2 separate regions of the Homo sapiens genome follow, and region 2 is linked to region 1. Evidence: fine-mapped expression QTL. Tissue or cell type: whole blood. Region 1 holds a variant in brackets; the other region holds the start of a gene. All regions are shown on one strand. Distances are between the middles of the regions.

What was found. PIP is the estimated chance that this variant, and not a neighbour inherited with it, causes the effect.
Region 2: it holds the start of PTP4A3, and the variant in region 1 is fine-mapped to the expression of PTP4A3 in whole blood (TOPMed, PIP 0.96). The same link has a PIP of 0.9 or more in blood mononuclear cells.

What each region holds. Positions count from the first base shown.
Region 1 is chr8:141,411,262-141,419,599 of GRCh38, reverse strand. The region is part of intron 1 of PTP4A3 (protein tyrosine phosphatase 4A3); the gene reads right to left. Among named protein-coding and RNA genes, the nearest start is that of ASTILCS, 23 kb to the right of the region's middle. RefSeq lists enhancers at 3,907-4,866, 6,787-7,634, 3,348-8,338. The variant A/C (reference allele first, on the strand shown) is at 4,540.
Region 2 is chr8:141,388,861-141,396,860 of GRCh38, reverse strand. PTP4A3 (protein tyrosine phosphatase 4A3) reads right to left here and starts at 4,840. Exons shown (of 6, transcript NM_032611.3): 1 at 4,777-4,840. It overlaps ASTILCS (antisense transcript of PTP4A3, liver carcinoma survival associated), which reads left to right and starts at 4,240. Exons shown (of 2, transcript NR_187488.1): 1 at 4,240-4,453; 2 at 5,710-6,993. RefSeq lists an enhancer at 5,148-5,768.

The DNA.
Region 1 (8,338 bases):
AACTCCGTCTCAAAAAAAAAAAAAAAAACCGGTGGTGGGGTGGGACCCCCAGAAGGAGGTAAAGGTGGAGACAAGGATACTGTCCCTGGTCCCGCCAGTCCCCACCTTGCCCGACTGGAGGGAGCACAGGCTCTGAGTGTGGGTGAGGGAAGCCACCACGTGCTAACAGCACACAAACACCTGGGTCCCTCTTGGGGCAGCAGGATGTCCCTGTGTGTGTGCACACGGGAGCCGAGCTCATGTTTACAGAAAGAAAGGAAGAAAAGCACCAGAGAAACCACAGTATTGGGCCTCTCCCTGAGGGGCTGACCAACCCCTCACACCTACAGCTGCCAGGGACCCAGGAAGACCCCACAGGCACCAGCACGTGGCCTGGACCTGCTGCCTAGTGGCCCTGCACAGGTCCTCAGGGCTGCAGGCTACTGGGAGGGAGGAGGCTCCGAACCACCCCACACTACCCCCCACTGAAGGCCTAAGGATGCCACACATCTGCCGGAATCAGGGGGTTAGCCTGGGCTACGCTCAGGGGTCACAGCCCAGGCTAGAATGGGGTTAGGGGTCCAGGGAGAGGCTGGACCAGGGTCTTGCCACACATCCCACTTGTCTCTGCAGCCTAGGGCCCCTACCCCTGCCCCAGGTGAGAGCAAAGCAATGATGCCCTGGCACCACTATGTGGCTCTGCCCTGCCTGGTGGCTGTCCCCCAAGGGAGAAAACCCCTCCATAACCACACGCCCCCAGTGAGGTCACCAGGTAGGGCCCTGAGAGCAAGGGTTAAGGATCCCCAGGGATGGGCACTGAGAACTCCCTGAAGCCAAAGCCTCAGGCTTCCCATCTGCGAAATGGGGACAGGTTGCCCCTGCCTCCATGTGTCCTGAGTCGCTACCACCCCCACCAGGCCCGCGGCCCACAGCACGGGGACCCACTGGCAGCCGTGGCCCCTCTTTCCCTCCTGCTACCTCCTTCCCTCCTGCTACCAAGCCCTGCAGAACCCTTCCCAAGATCTGGCTCAGCCTCCTCGGGCCAGCAGGCCCAGAGCCCTCAGCTATTTCTCAAGACCCTTTAAGGGAGAGTCCATCCTTGTCCCTGTTTGCGAGATGAGGAAACAAGCCAGGGAGAGGGGAGAACATTCTCCACCAGGGCCACACCAGGCGTCCAGTTAACTGGGTTCTCTCTGGCTCAAATCTAGGAGGCAGGAACAACACGCAGCGCCCTGCACAGAAGAGGAAATCGAGGTTCAGGGAGGCTACCGCCCTCCTTCCCGATGGCACAGCAGCTTAAGAAGTTTGAATCCAGCCCCCGCTTCAGACAGGGCGCCCCCTGTGATTTTGGGGGAGGAGGCTGGAGGCCCGGGGCTCAGCGGGTCTCAGGAGAAGTAAGCTGCGCCGCGGTCAGGGCTGAGGCGGGCGCTCTGGGGAGTCCCGGGGAACCAGTCGCGGGTGGGGTCGTGGTAAGGGGCGCGGCCCCCTCCCTGGGTGCCAGCGGGGCTCCCGCCCAGCCCTCCGGAGGGCGCCACCTCCTCCCCGGCGGGGCTGGGGTCCCGGAAGGCCTGGGTCCGCCGCGTCCCCACCTGCCAGGCTCACCCGCGCCGCAGGCGTCCCACCGCCTCCATACGCGCCGGCCTGGCGGTGCCCACGGTGCTGGCCCTGGGTCGGGGCGCCGCCCCTCCGCCGCGGAGCCGGCTCCAGGCGCTGCCGCCACCGCCGCCTGCGGCTATTTATAGCGCCCGGGCGTCACGTGGGGGGCGTGACCGGCGGGCGACCCGGCTGCCGGGGGCTCCCACACCTGCCGCCTAAATATAGCCGCGCCCTGCCCGGGAAACAAAGGGGCCGCGCAGGGCGGGCGCGGGGAAGAGGAAGCCCAGCCAGGAAAGGGAAGTGCGGGGCGCGGCGAGGGCCGGGGGCGCTGCCGCCCGGGACCCCTCCTTCCTCCCGCCGGCCGGCCCGGCGCCCTCTCCCGGTGCGCGCCCTCCCTAGAACCTCGGAGCTCCCCCTGGCCCCCTCATGGGGCTGCACGGGCCTGTGGGCTGGGGGTCCGGAGGGCAGGAGCCGCCGGGCCGCGCTCCTGGTGGGGAGGCCTGGACAGAGCGCGCCCAGCTTTGGAAATGGAAATGCGGCCCCGCCGTGCAGGTGCTGTCCTGCACCCTGAGGAGGAGGGCGCCCGAGTCCCTCCAGTTCAGACCCCCTGCCCAGCCCACCAGCCCCACCGCCCGGGCACTCCTCCATGAATTTACTCAGCACCCACCGTGCCAGACACTGCTGTCCCCTCACTTAATCCTCACGACCCCGCTGTGGCTGGCTACGCTGGTCTCTCCTAGCGTACTGGTGAGGAAACTGAGGCACTGCAACGAGGAACACCCTGAGGTAACACCGGCAGGCAGGATTCAGCCAGGCGGCGGGCTCCACAAACTCTGAGGCTCGGCACTGATGCCCCCTCTTCCAGGAAGCCCTCCCAGACCCTCTCAAGCAAACGCCTCCCTGCGACTCCTGGCTCTGCCTCCTGGGAGCATTGTGCCGGGAACTCATGTGCTCCCCAGACTATGAACCCCAGGGATGCAGCTGGCATCACCACCCACTCTGTGCCCGCCCTGGCCACCCAGGGCCCTCAGAGCAGGGTGGAGCGGCAAGGGTGGTACCCCCAGCACAGGGTCCCTGGAGGTGTGGCCCTGCTTGCAGCTCTCAAACAACCTGGTCCCTGCAATCTGAGGTCATCAAGGGGCCCAGCTGAGAGCACGACCCCCCCTCCCCCTGCCAGGCTCTCCCCACCCACACTTCCAGAAAACATCACCATCAGCCTGGCCCAGCTGTGCCGGCAACCCTCGCCTCCTCCCACCTCCAGGTGGGCAAGCAGGCTGGGGAGCAGAGGACAGGAGGGCTGTGCCCAGTCTGAAGGGCCCCATGGGAGCCTCCACCCAAGGGCACACCAAGCCAGGTAGCCCTGCCTGCCAGCTCATGGACCCCCAAGGGTGTGAGCTCCCTGGCAAGGGCACCCACCCACGTGGGTGCACCCAGCTCCACAGGGAGACGCTAGGCTCTGACTCCTGCCCAGTGCTCTCAGCTCACCACTTCCAGCAGCGTCTCCCTGAAGGTTGAAGGCAAGAATGGGTCAGCTTCAGGGACTCTGCCCCACCAATCTCCAACCTCAGCCACTTTCTAAGGATACCAGGCTAGACACTGCATTCCACAAGCAAGACACACACCTGCCACACTGCACTGACAAACCATAACAGCACAGAGAAGCTGAGCAACCCTTCTGAGTCACACAGCCAGAAGGCAGAAAAACCACATTTGGAGCTGGGTCTTGCTGCCCCCGAGACCCTGCTTATCCCCACCCTAGCCCTCTGGGAGAGAGGACCTCTGGGGTAAGCTGCTCCTGCCCCCCAGCCTCAGTTTTCTTATCCATAAAAGGGGTCTCAGAGTGAAAGTTCCCATCAAGCTCTGTGATGCTACAACCAGACAGAGCCCGTCGCCTCTGGCGCTACAAAAGTGGACCCCAGCATCCTCATCACCCCCACCCGGGCTCCACCCCCTTGCCTGGGGCCCTCTGGCCGGGCCTGGGAGGCACCTGCTGCAGCTGGCACAGCCCCAGGCCTTTCGGAGAAGTCTATTTATAACCAGGCAGGAGCCGTTCCTGGAATCCTCCCAGAGCGGGCCCAAGTCCGCCCATTGCTAGGGGGGCCAGGAGGGGAGACCCAAGCAGGCCAAGCCCACGCTTGATGCACTAGGACGCCTTCCCGGAGTCCTCCAGGCCCCTGCACTCGGCAGCTCCAAGGGCCCAGCCTCCTCACTGCCACATCCCCCCATGCCATCCCATCCCCTCTCCCCACCCCACCCCACACCCTCTCCCCACCCCACCCCACACCCTCTCCCCACCCCACCCCACCCCAGTCCCCACCCCACCCCATCCCCTCTCCCCGCCACGCCCCCTACCCTTCACCACCCCTGCCCCCTGCCCCCCCGCCCCGCCCCCTGCCCCCCGCCCTCCGCGCACGTCAAAAGGGCCCACCCGGAGTCATGTGGGAGGCGGGGGCGCGGGGCTGGGCACTCCCCCGAAGGATCCCGGAACGCTCCGGCTGGGGCCTCGAATAGGGACCGGGGCCGCAGGGTCCCAGGGCTGCGGCGGGCACCCTGGTCCCGGCCAGAGGGCAGGAGGGTCCCTCCAGCGCTGGCCTGGGCTCTGGGGCCCACGGGGGACAGGGCGGTCCCTAGGGCCCTGTAACAGCGGGAGCGAGCGGGAGGGGGCGGGAGGGGGATGGCGCACGGAGACCCAGGCCCTGTAGTTGGGGTGGGGAAAGACTGGGGGCTGTCCAGGGCTCCGGCCTGTCTCCCCACTGCCTGCTGCAGGCTGGGAAGAGGGTCCCAGGGCCCGTTCCTTGCCGCGCTGGAGGGAGCCTCACTGCATCCCCACCACTTCCACCTGCCCACACAGAAGGGCCCGGACCCTGCAGCCTGCCCCGGCTTCACTCCCAGGTGGCAGCCCTGGGCTCAGCAGGCCCTCACTTCATCCTGTTGTCCCCATTTCCTCCAGGAGGAAGTGCAGGG[A/C]GACAGGGGAGGCGACTCAGTGGACCCCACCCAGGCCCCCCGCCACCCACACCCAACCCCCACCCCATATACACAACTTCTAACATAGTTCCTTCCGCAGGAAGTGGGAACTCCACCAGTGGAGGAGGGGCTGTTCCTGCAGTCCAGGGCCCGGGTCACTTGCCCCTCCCCCATCAGGATGCTGCCCTAGGCCTGGTGATATCAGGAGGGGGCGGAGCCCTCGTACCTCACCCTGGAAAGGATGAGGGGGCGTCTCTCAGGCCAGCCCAGCCCCCAGGACTCTACCTCCTGGGGCAGAGAGCGGTCACTAAGAAGTCCACCCTTATCCCTGCTCCCCCCAGCCACCAAGACAGCTGCGCCATAACTCACCACCCCCTGCCTAGGCACCCGATCCACCTGTGCCAGTCTGGGGCTGCCCAACAGTCCCTACCCCCCCCCCAGTCCAGGGCTCTTCCCAAGCTCAGTGCCCGCATTCTCCTCAGCCACCTGCCCGAACCTCTCCTGCTCCTCAAGACCCCGGCCAGGTGCAGAGACTCACACACCTGCCACCAGGCTGCTGCTCCCACGTGCCCTCTGTCTGGCTGCCCTTCTCTCTCCCTACCGGGCCACCTCTTCCAGCCTCCCAGTGAGTGAACCTCCCCTGCCCCAGCCACCTTCCACCACTACAGTCCCAGAAGCCAGGTCTACCCACCAGGCTGGGCCCCCAGACCCTAGGGCCACACTCGGCCCCTTTTGATCTCCCCATGGGAGGATACAAATCTCAGGGGATTATTGTACACAAATGGCCTAATGTCCAGCGAGTGGACAGGACAGCTCCACAATGGCAGGCCAAGTCGGTGGCTCAGACAGGACTCCCAGTCCAGTGCTCATGCCTTACCTCCCAGGATGACTGAGAAGCCAGTGTGGAAACCGCCCAATGGGAAGCTCTGGCAAGCACACACACTGACCTGCATACACAGAGATGTGTGCTCACGTGCACACACACACACACACACACACGCCACAGAAACAGATGACCAGATCAGATGCCTGTGCCGGGAAGATGGGGACCCCATTGCCCCGCAGCAGTCCAGCCCCACGACGCCCACCAGAGCCTCCAGGGACACCGTGAGCCCGAATCCTCCATGTCCTCCTGTCCACACAGCATCTTTACACCAAGAGCCCTGAATCCTCCATGTCCTCCTGTCCATACCGCATCTTTCATCTTGCCTGGAAGGCCTCTGCCCAGGCTGGAAGGAGGATGGCACAGCCACACCAGCTGTGGACCAGTCACTGCCCTCCCTGCGGCAACCCTGACCCATCTTGGAACAGACACAGCTGGACTCCTGAGTGTTTCCAAAGCCATGGCGTCTGTAACATGCAGGTTCCCAGGCCACACCCAGACCAGGTGCCCCACTCACATGCGCACACGTGGCCCCACCTTGCCCTGGGCAGGAGGGAGCCGTGTTCTGACGGCCCTAACCCTCCCTGCCCCCAGCCTCCCACCCCAGAGCTCTGTTATAACACACCTGCCAGCAGCAGCTTCCGTTAAGAGCCAGTCGCTCTGGAGTACGGGGTGTTGGGTCGGAAATTGTGCGGCTCCAGGATTCCAGACAGGAGGAAGCCCACATGAAGCCTGCCCTGGCCCTGGCATTAGGCCTGCATGCCCACGGTCCTGCTGCCTTCCTCCTGGGCCCCATTTAGCCAGTGCCATGCCACCCACATCCAAGGCCCCTGAAGGCCAGTACCCAGAAGTGGGCATGGTGTCCCGGAGGGCATGGAGTTTCATTCGGAGCTCACAGCCTCTGAGAAGGAGCCTCTCCCCGCCCCAGTCCCTGAGGCCCTGCCAAGAATGCAGAGGCCCCCAGCAGGCCCAGAGGAGGCCCCTGATCTGGCCTCCCGGAGAGTTCAGGGCCTCCCTGGCACACCAGGCACAGCCCCTACCCCTTCTGTGCCACACACCAGTGGACCCTCAGCAGACACAGCTGACTCCAGGGCAGGAACCGACCCCCAAGCTCTCCAAGGGTCCGCATGGCCTGATGGTCCCTCCTGCTGGCCGGAGGAGGCTGCCCAGGAAGGTCCTCACCCACCAGCATCAGCCAGAGGCCCCAAAGTGGTCCACAACAGGGGAAGGGCATGAGGCCAGCCCTGAGCCCACTGGGCCTGGCTAAGCCTCCACCCCAGGTGCCCCCTGGGAACTGCAAAACCGTCCCGTGCATGCTGTGTGCCTCTGGGCCCCTCTCCTGAGCTCCCAGACCTTGTTAGTCACCCACACAACATGAGAATTATGAACCCATCACCAGATGAGAATACACAGGAACTGCCCCTGGCAGTGCCCACAGAGTTGTCACAGAGGCTGAGAGGGCAGGGTGGGCAGTGGGCGAGCTCGCTGTGGGAGGGCTCAAGCTAAGCCTGCTCTGCAGAAAGGATCCAGAGTTTGGCTGAATTCCATGTGCCTGCCTGGATGGAGCCAGGCCTTGGGCCCACAGGGCCTCTCCACGGAGAAGAGGCCATGGCTCCTCCTCGGGACCCCTGGACCATCCAGGGGACAGGGCCCTGAGGGCCATGAGCATGCAGCCAGCACTAGGCAGGCAGGCAGCCCCTGCTTGCTGTTCCTGGCATGCCTGACCCCAAACCCAGGAGCAGACTCACACCCCACCCAGCACCTTCACGGGAACAGGAGTTCTGCCCTCTAGCAGGGGAGCCAATCCCTCACGCCCACCCAGCCACCCATGCTCACTTGGGAGGTGGGGAGCTGGGCCGGCCTGTTCCTCCACAGTGGGACCCTGTCAGCAGGGTGTCCAGGAAGCTTGTGGTCCCTGAGGGTGGCTGGACCTTGGGGCCACTTCCACCATACCCAGACGCCCTGGACAGGGCAGCAGGCATGTACACCTCTGCTGTGTCACAGAAAAGGAAGAGCCCACGCTTAGCCACTGCCCAGCGCAGCACCCCCATATACCCATGACGCCCCTCCCTGAACCCAGTGTCCAGTCCCATGGAAGGCGGAGAAGGCCCAAGAACCCCTCTGTGTAGTGGCCTCGCGTGGTGCCCTCAGCACAGGCAATGCCCATGTCCATCCTCAGAGCAGTCCTGGAAGGCGCCCATCACCCCATTTTGTGGATGAGTAAACCGAGGCTCAGGCTGTGCAGTCAGCGAGAGCTCTGAGAGGCTGAGACAGGATTCAGGGCCTACCCAGGGTGGGCACTTTCTCTGCATTTTCTTCTTAAAACAGCCAAGCCCTACACTCCATGTCAGCCCCAGCAGGCGCGGTCACCCTGTGCTCAGTCCCTGGGATCCCTTCCTCTGTGCCACCCAGGGCCCGTGGGGTCGGGGACAGGAAGGGGGATCGAGATCATGGAGCTAGCCAGGGCCACTGGCCGAGGCTCTAGTGGACGCACGTCAGAGGGGCCTGAGGAACCGCGGGAAAGAGCTCTGACCTGGCCTCGGGAGGCCACGTCCAAAATAGCCAGCCCTGCACGGTGAGGGGACTCAGCCGGCATGCACGTAGGCCTCTTGGCCCCAAGCGCTGCCAAGCTGGCTGCGGAAGGTCACAGCTATTTCTGGGCTGGCCCGATGGTGAGACGCAGCCTGGCACCCCCAGAGCCAGTGCACACGGCGCCACTGAGGCCCAGGGGGATAGGGCTACCCCCAGGACACATGGTGGAGGGGCTGGAGGGGCCCGCAGGTTCCCCATGGTGCCTAGATCCTACTGGGGGGACCAGTGCTGATGGCCTTTCCTCTCTGAGCCAGCTCCCTCCCAAAAAGCACGTGCAGTGCTATGAGTGGATTGGTTTCATAGTCACATCACTGGCTTTTACAG
Region 2 (8,000 bases), 23 kb after region 1:
GTGCACTCAGGACCCGCACGTCAGCTTGTCGGCTCCACACATGCAGCCCCTCGGGTTATGCGTGGTCTTGTCCCACGTGAGAAGGGAACACTGAGACTCAGAAGGTGACATGACCAAGCTGGCGTGGCCAAGCTAGCCCTTCCCGAGGCCACCGTCTCCCCACCCTGTAGCCCCCATCCCCACCTCATCTCTTCCTGGCCAAATCATCAGCGGTGCCCTTTGTCCCCCGTGTGCCTGTGGTGCAGCTGCTCCACTTGGCGCCAGCTCCTCGGGGCAGGGCTCGGGACTGTCCTGTTCCCAGTGGGCCAGAGCAGGCACACAGTAGGTGCTCCAGGGCTGTGGGCTCGGTGAGAGAGGAATGCTGGACGGGCTGCCCGGGGCCAGATTCCATACCACCTGATGACCTGGAGCTGCTCACCCCACTGGCACCATCACCCAAATGACCAGCACCCTCCCCTGCCCATTTACTGACCTTTCCCCAAAAAGGAGGCATGGCCAGCGTTCAAATTCCTGCTCTCCTCCCAGCAGTGACCCTGGCACGTCACTTCTCCCCTAGGGTCCTTCCCTGGCTCTAGGGCAGGACGGTAATATGAACACTTACCCGCCAGAGGTCTCAATCCTCTAGGATGAAGGGAGTTAAAATGCATCAAGTTTTACGTATGAGTCCATCACGGTCCTGACCAATGGCACCCACAGCCCAGATAATGGGGCCGGTTCTGGCTGTACCGCAATCACCAGGCACTGCCAAGGAGCCCCACCTTCACATGGCACGGGGTTACAGTCACGGCAGGGGTGGGGGTTACACATCAGGTTAGGCCTGCTTCCTCTGAGCCAGTGGCAGGGTTGGCGGGGGCAGGTGGCCAGGACAGGGTGGGAGAGGGGAGGCAGCCCCATCTGTCCCCAGCCAGGGTGGCCCTTGGCAGGCAACAGCAATGACTGTGCTGCATTTCCACTCCTTCTAGAAGCATAAGCCCTGACATGAGGGCACCCCTACATCTGGGGAAGACACCAGGAGAGGAGCCGGGGGGCATGGGAGCACCCCTACATCCCGGGAAGATGCCAGGAGAGGAGCCAGGGGACATCCCCACTGGGTAGATGAACGGGGGCTGCAGGAGGGAGGGGTGGCCCACGCACCTACCCCGGGTAGATGAACGGGGGCTGCAGGAGGGAGGGGTGGCCCACGCACCTTCCCCAGGTAGATGAACGGGGGCTGCAGGAGGGAGGGGTGGCCCATGCACCTATCCTGGGTAGATGAACGGGGGCTGCAGGAGGGAGGGGTGGCCCACGCACCTAAGGGGAAGTGGGGGTGCACTGGGCAATGGCCCCCAGTTCCCCTCCAGGAGGAAGGTAAACCTGAGGGCCCACTCTCAGGACCCCAGCTGAGCCCTGAGCCATGTGGTCATCCCTGACCCTCAGTTCCGCTTCCAAACCAGGAGGCTGCCACTAAAGCAGCCCAAGACTGAGTGGCACGTGCCTGGCGGGAAGCGATGCCCCACCTAGGGGTCCTTAGGGCCACACCCTTGGCTGGGAGGAACAGCCTGTCCTTATTTTCTGAACTGTCTTTTGTACAACAGCCTTGGCGCAGCTCAAAGGATAAGTGAGGTTCTCAGGGTCCTGACCTGAGGCGCCCCAAGGAGGGGAGACACGCGCACACTCTCTGCCAGGTGAACGCCTACTGGGCCATCGGAACCCACAGCTCGTGCCCCACCCACACTGGCACGGGCTGTGTCCACGTAGCCCTGATCCCGCTCGGCTAAAGAGCGCAGCTCTCAGCTGCCGTAGGTAGCTGCCAGGACCCTCCACCCTCTGCTCAGGCTCCTGGGTGGAAGGAAGCACCCGTCCCTGTCCCCGTCCCACCTTGGGGAGGCCCCCCTCTCTCCAGGGAGGCTGGCCTACCCGACTGGCAGGCGTGGGGCACACTCTGGGCCGCCCCCAACCGCACACACCCAACTCGCGGGGCGCCGAAGTCAGGCGGCGGCGATGCCAACCCGACCACGTAACTGTGCGAAGTGCAGTACCTCCTCCTGCAGCCCACAGCCACTCCCACCCAACTCTGAACTGTGCAGAGAGGACGGGGCTCATCGGCCCTCGGACCTTGCCCAGGTCCCTGCCTATGGGTCCTGCGAGCCGGTCCAGGTCAGAAGGAGGGATGGGAAGTCTTTTTTACCTCACACATGTTCACCCGTGTGACCAAGCTTCACCACTGTCCTGCCAGGAAGACCTGTCATTGCTCCCATTTTACAGGTGTGGAAACGGAGGGGCAAGAAACCAAGTATCCAGCAAGACACTGGGAGGCCAGGCCCTCCTGCCTCTAGCCCAGCCTCGGGCTGCTGCACTTGCTAGGAAACACCACTGCAGGCAGGGAGGGGTGCCAGGGACCAGAGGGAGTAGGTGACAGCAAGGGCGGCCAGGGTGGAGGTGGGGAGAAACGGTGCTCTCGAGGTGAGAAAGCGCCCTGGGGTGGTCTGGGACAGTGACCATCTGGTTACAGCCTTTGGTCAGATTTGGGACCTTCATGGAACAAGGCAAGCCCAAGGTCTTGGGGGGCGAAAAATCACCACTATCTGCCAGCCCCAGGCCCAGGAGCTCCCAGCTCAGCCCCTCTGGCCAAATGCCACCTGGACACCAGCCTGGTACACTTTCCACTTAACTCACCCTTTCGCCAGGACCTGCCAACCAGGGAGAGGCCTCCCCAAGCTGTATCACCGCCATCTGGATGTAAGTCCCTAAGGAGGTCACGTGCATAGGCATTGGGCACCAGCGGACACTCTGCCCACCCTGGCGGTGAGAGGGAGGGCTCACACCAGCTTATGCCCCCCTCTCAGTCTGACTGTGTGCACCTCTGCCCAAGTCCTCAGCCAGTAAAGTCACGTCTGTGTAGCTTGGGAGTAGTTACACCACAGAAATTGGCCAATGCCAATTCAGGATTTGGTTAAGCATCTGTTAAGCATGCCCTCATGTCATCTTTGAGCCCAGCCACCCATGGTGCCTCCAAGACCTCCTCGCCATCCAAACTGCCCACTTGTCTGAGAAAGCTGCCCACCTCCCGGCCTTCCTCCTGCCTCCCATGTCCAGTGCCTGACTGCATCAGCCAGCCACCCTCACCATGTTCTGGGCTGTTACTTGGGACAGAGAGGGGACCAGCTGAGGCCCCCAGCCTTACTCCAGTGGTCAGCGCAAGCTTCCGGGAGGAGGGCAAAGGCAGAGAGGAGCAGGCAGCTGAGGAAACCACCTGGAGGCTGCATCTCATCCCCGCCTGCATTTTCTCCCATCACGCCGACTGCCTGCGGGGGCCTGTCCGCAACCTGCCCCGCTCAGCCAGCCAGCCATGCCCCATCTCCAGGTCCAGCATTGGGCCTGGCACAGAGTAAGTGCTTGGAGAACACGTTGGGGGTGTTGAGGGGTGACCAGCTCCCTAGCGGGGCTATTTGGAAACAGCCCAGGAATTCCTACACAGGGCAGCTTCTCCTCCTTCGTAACCACAGTGAGGGGGGCCGGCGTGGTGATGGGGAGATCCCCAATGCCTAATTCCACTCAGGTGACAGGTTCGGGGCCCATTTACAGCAGCTCCAACGCCCCCTTTGCAGATGGGGACAACAAGGCTCTGCTTAGCCCCGCAGGCTAGGGGCTGCACCAACTCCACCTTTGTGGGCCTCAGTCTCCTCATCTGAGAAATGGGGTTAACGAACTTCTTGGGAGGATTGCAGGAACTCAGTGAAGCACGGCTCTGCACAGGGCTGCCAGGCGGCTTCTGTCTGTGCAAGGCCACAGGCACCCTGTGTTCAGTGACCTCCTCTGGTCTGCAGCCGAGGACACTGCTCCAACCTGGGAGCAGGGCCCCCAGGGTCCACAGACTAGGTGGATGCCCAACACCCACCATCGTGTGCGGGGCACACCCCAGAGCCCGCAGGCAGAGAGAGGGGGTGCAGCACGTGCCTTTCTGTCTTGGCTGAGGGTGCCCGGGCACACACTGTGACCAGCTAGCCTGGACCTCACGCTGCCCTTGGAGCCGCTATCACAGAGGGCCAGGGAAGCCTCCCTCATAAAGGGCTTCCCTCCGGGAACCGGCAGGGTGAAACTGCTCTGCCCACTTGGAGCTAAGCATGCCACCACCCCACCCCTGGGCCACCAGCTGCCCAGGGGCGTGTCAGGAGTCACCCGTTTAATCCCTGAGGCACGTGGATCAAGGCTGCTGACCTGATTCTACCGGGGTGTGCTTGGAGGGCTGAGGCGCCGCCCGAGTCCCAACACTGGTATGGTCTGAGGCGGACTCCACCCGGCCTGAGACCTGACGCTCTGCTTTCCCCTGACCTCCACTGACATCTACGACCCGCCCTGGAGGCACGGAAGGCTGTGGGGTTCCAGCCCCCCAAACTGTGCAGCTGAGGAAAATGAGCCGTGAATGGGGGCAGAGCCAGATCCTGGGCGGGACCCTGCGCAGGATGAACTCAGGGTAGGAGGTCTCCCGCGCACCCAGAAACGGGAGCGGGTCACCCCCTTCCAGCCAGGGGTGTTCTGTGGCTCGCCTGGGGAAACAGCGGCCTCCTGAGGCTCGGCCCCGGCACGTGGCAGCCTCCAGGCCCACGTTCCCGCCGGATCGGCCGCCAGGCGCAGGGTCCCGGGACGCGCGGGCAGGGGGAAGGCGGCGGCCCTCCCGGCTGCGCGGCCCCGAAGCCGTGCCCGGAGCGGGCGGCGGGCTCGCGCGCGGACGGCCCCCCACGCGCCTCCACAAAGCGCCGCGCGCCCCCGCCCCGAGCGGGCGCGGAGGAGACTGACCTGGCGGTCCGGGCGGCGCCGGCACGACGGGTGGAGGGCTCGGGACGCGCGCGCCCTCGCGCACAGGCGCGGCCGCGGCTCCACCGGCTTAGGGCGCGCGCCGGACCCGCTGGGTCACGTGGGGGCACGGCCCAATGGGAGCGCTCCCCACGCCGCGGCCGCGCGCCCGCCGCCCCCGAGGCCGCCCCTGGGCTGGGAGGAGGCGGCTCCGGTCGCGCGGGCGGCCTCGGGGACTGACCTTGGCTCCTGTGCCTGCCGGGCGCCTAGGCCAGGTCGGCCTGGGGCAGGCGGGCGTCGGAGGGGCAGTTTTGAAGCCCGAGCGAAGAGGCAGAGGGCGGGATGCGGACGAAGCCAGGGAGTTCACGAAACTTCTGGAGTTCTCAGTTTCCCCCTAAGTCGACTGGGGCTAGGTCCCGTGCCGCCAGGCGGGCTGGCTGAGGGGATGGGCTGGGGCGACAAGACGGCAGCCGCCTGGCCCGGGTACTTGGGGTCAGACCGGCTTCGAGGCCCCCGGACCGCCGTGTTATCAGGACGGGTAGGGAGCCCACGGGACGCGTGGTGCTCAGAAGAGCGGGGAGGCGTGTGGACGGGGCCTGCCCGAGCTGCACCACCGCCTGCCTCCAGGCTGCGAGGCCCGCCCAGGCGAAGGCGGCATCTCAGCCTCTAGCCCTTGGGGACCTTGAGGACGTCCTCTTATGGGTCAGCCGTTCCTAGGGAGGCTTGTGGCTCCAGTTACTGGAAAAACCAGTGCTGGTTCACGCAGGAGGCCCCAGTACAGGGGGAAACAGAGGCAAGCTGGGGTCTCCCAGGCGGCCTCACCCACCCAGCCCTGTTCCATGCCAGTCCCTGGACCCTTGGCCCAGTCAGATGTTCAACTGCTCCAGCCCTGCCTCCACTTCCCTGAAAGATGCTTTTCCACCCATCCACCCTCAGCAGCCAGAGGGACCCCGGGAAGATGGGAGTGAGAGCTGCCTTCGTCTGCAAAAGTCTCCAGACACCACCTCACTGGTGAAGGCCAGAGACCCTAAACTGTCCCAAGACCACCTGACTGGGCTGCCTCCCTGCCACCTGGCTGCCAGCCTCTCTCAGAGCGCCTGCAAGCTATTCCTCCAACCCAGAGTTTCCTTCCCAGCTAAAGGCCTTTGCACCTGCTGTTCCTTCTGCCTGGAAGTTCACCGCAGACTATCCCAGGGCCTCCATCCTTCCCATTGCATGGTCCCCATCAGCTGCCGCCGCCTCTGAGAGCTCAGTCTCCACTGGCCATCCTGTCTCTCAGCCCACTGCACTCTCCACTCTGCCAGAAAGTCCCCCAATCAGTGACAACACAGGTCACGGTCCACACCTCACCTGGTTTGTCCCCAGTGCCCAGCATCTGGCACCGAGCAGGTGCGTGCAAATCCTGGACAGGTGGGCAAGCTGATGGTGTCCAGAGGCCCCTGGTCCTTAAGGGCAGGGGTGGGGATGGCTCAGAGGACATAACCTTGCAGACCCGGGTTCAAATCTGGGCTCCTCAGCTCATTTGGTCCTCACACAGCCCATGTTGGGAGAGCTAGTGTTCTCCCTGTTTTGCTGATGAGACACAGAGAAGGTCAGCAACTCCCGAAGATTGCCCAGCAAGTTGGGAGTAAAGCTGGTGCAATTCCCACGTTTAGCTGCTAAACAGGGTGTCCTGTACTTGGTGTGTTCAAGCAGAAATCCACACATGGGAAGGTCAAGGCAACATCCCTGGTACTCCAGCTTTGAGGTCCTAGGAAAAAGGGAACCTCCCATTAAATGCTTCTATTGCCGGGAAGTTCAGCACCTGTAAAAGCAGCCCCTTCCCGTTTCACTGTGGCTGCATTTTAATTCTTATTTTTTAAATGTTTAGCTTAAGGCCGGGCACAGTGACTCACACTATAATCCCAGCAATTTGGGAGGCTGAGGCGGGAGGATCACTTGAGCCTAGGAATTCAAGACCAGCCTAGGTAACATAGTGGGACCCTATCTCTACAAAAAATAAAAAATTAGCCAGTCATGGTGGCATGCTCCTATAGTCCCAGCTTGGAGATTGAGGTGGGAGGATCACCTGAGCCTAAGAGGACAAGGCTAGAGTAAGCCCTGATCCCGCCAGCACCCCAGCCTAAGTGAAAGAGCGAGAGCCTGTCTCAAAAAAGATAAAAAAAAAAAAAGCATTAATAAATAAATGTTTGGCTTCATCTAGCCTGAGCAGCACCAACACCCCCTGCCTGTTTCATGCTATTTTCCTCCTCTCCTGCCCAAAATCTCAGAGAGGTTTCTATCCCAGCCACCCAAATTTGCTGGGGTGAGTGGGCTCCCGAGAGGCTGGAGCCTCCTTCCTCCCCACGCTCTTACCATCCTGCAGGGAGTCGGGAGCAAAGGAGGAGGCTCCTCCATGCTGGATTCATTTCAGTTCTCAGACATTCACCGAGTGCTGACCACATGCCAGGGACTTACACCCACCCACCAAGTCCACACTGAGCCCTGCAGAGGAATCCCTGACACCCCCATTTTGCAGATTAGGAAGCAGAAGCTAAGCGAAAGCAGAATCAAGATTCAAACCCAGGCACGGTGAAACCAGAGCTGTCCAACTGCTGTGAGTGGAATGGGCCGGGCATGAACAGGCTTGGGGAGAATCCTGGGATTTCATAGCCGGAAGAGAGCTCAAAGTGATCGTGTTTTACAGAGGAGAAAACGGGGCCTCAGAGATGATGGCTGAGCCGTGAAAAGGTGGGGTCAGAAGCCAGGCCCAGTCTCCTGAATTCCAGACTCCAGAATCTCCCCCAGGATTGAGGAATGTTCCACAGAAAGAATCCCAGCTCCACCTACCCCAGTCACTGGACCTGCCCAGCCCTGGAGGCATGGCCAGGAGGAGGCCCCCGCAGGTGGGGGATTGTTGGAGAGGGATGCCAACCATGCAGGACGATCTAGACAGTGGTGAGGCCCACTGGGGCTGGCAGGATTAGCAGATTAGCTCCAAGGAGGACAAAGACGAGGTCAGCGTTAAGTGGATTTCTGGAAAGCCTCCTCCAGCCCAGCAGGGCCCTACAGGAGGGGCCCAGGCTGGGGGACCTAGATCCAGCCACGGAGGGCATGGGTGGGCTAATGGCACCAGCAGCAGCTCTTGAGCCCCCATCACTGGGCTGCACACTTTGACCTCTCCTGGCCTCAGTTTCCCCATCTATAAATGTCATAGTAATAGCTCCAACCTCACAGGGCTCTTGGGA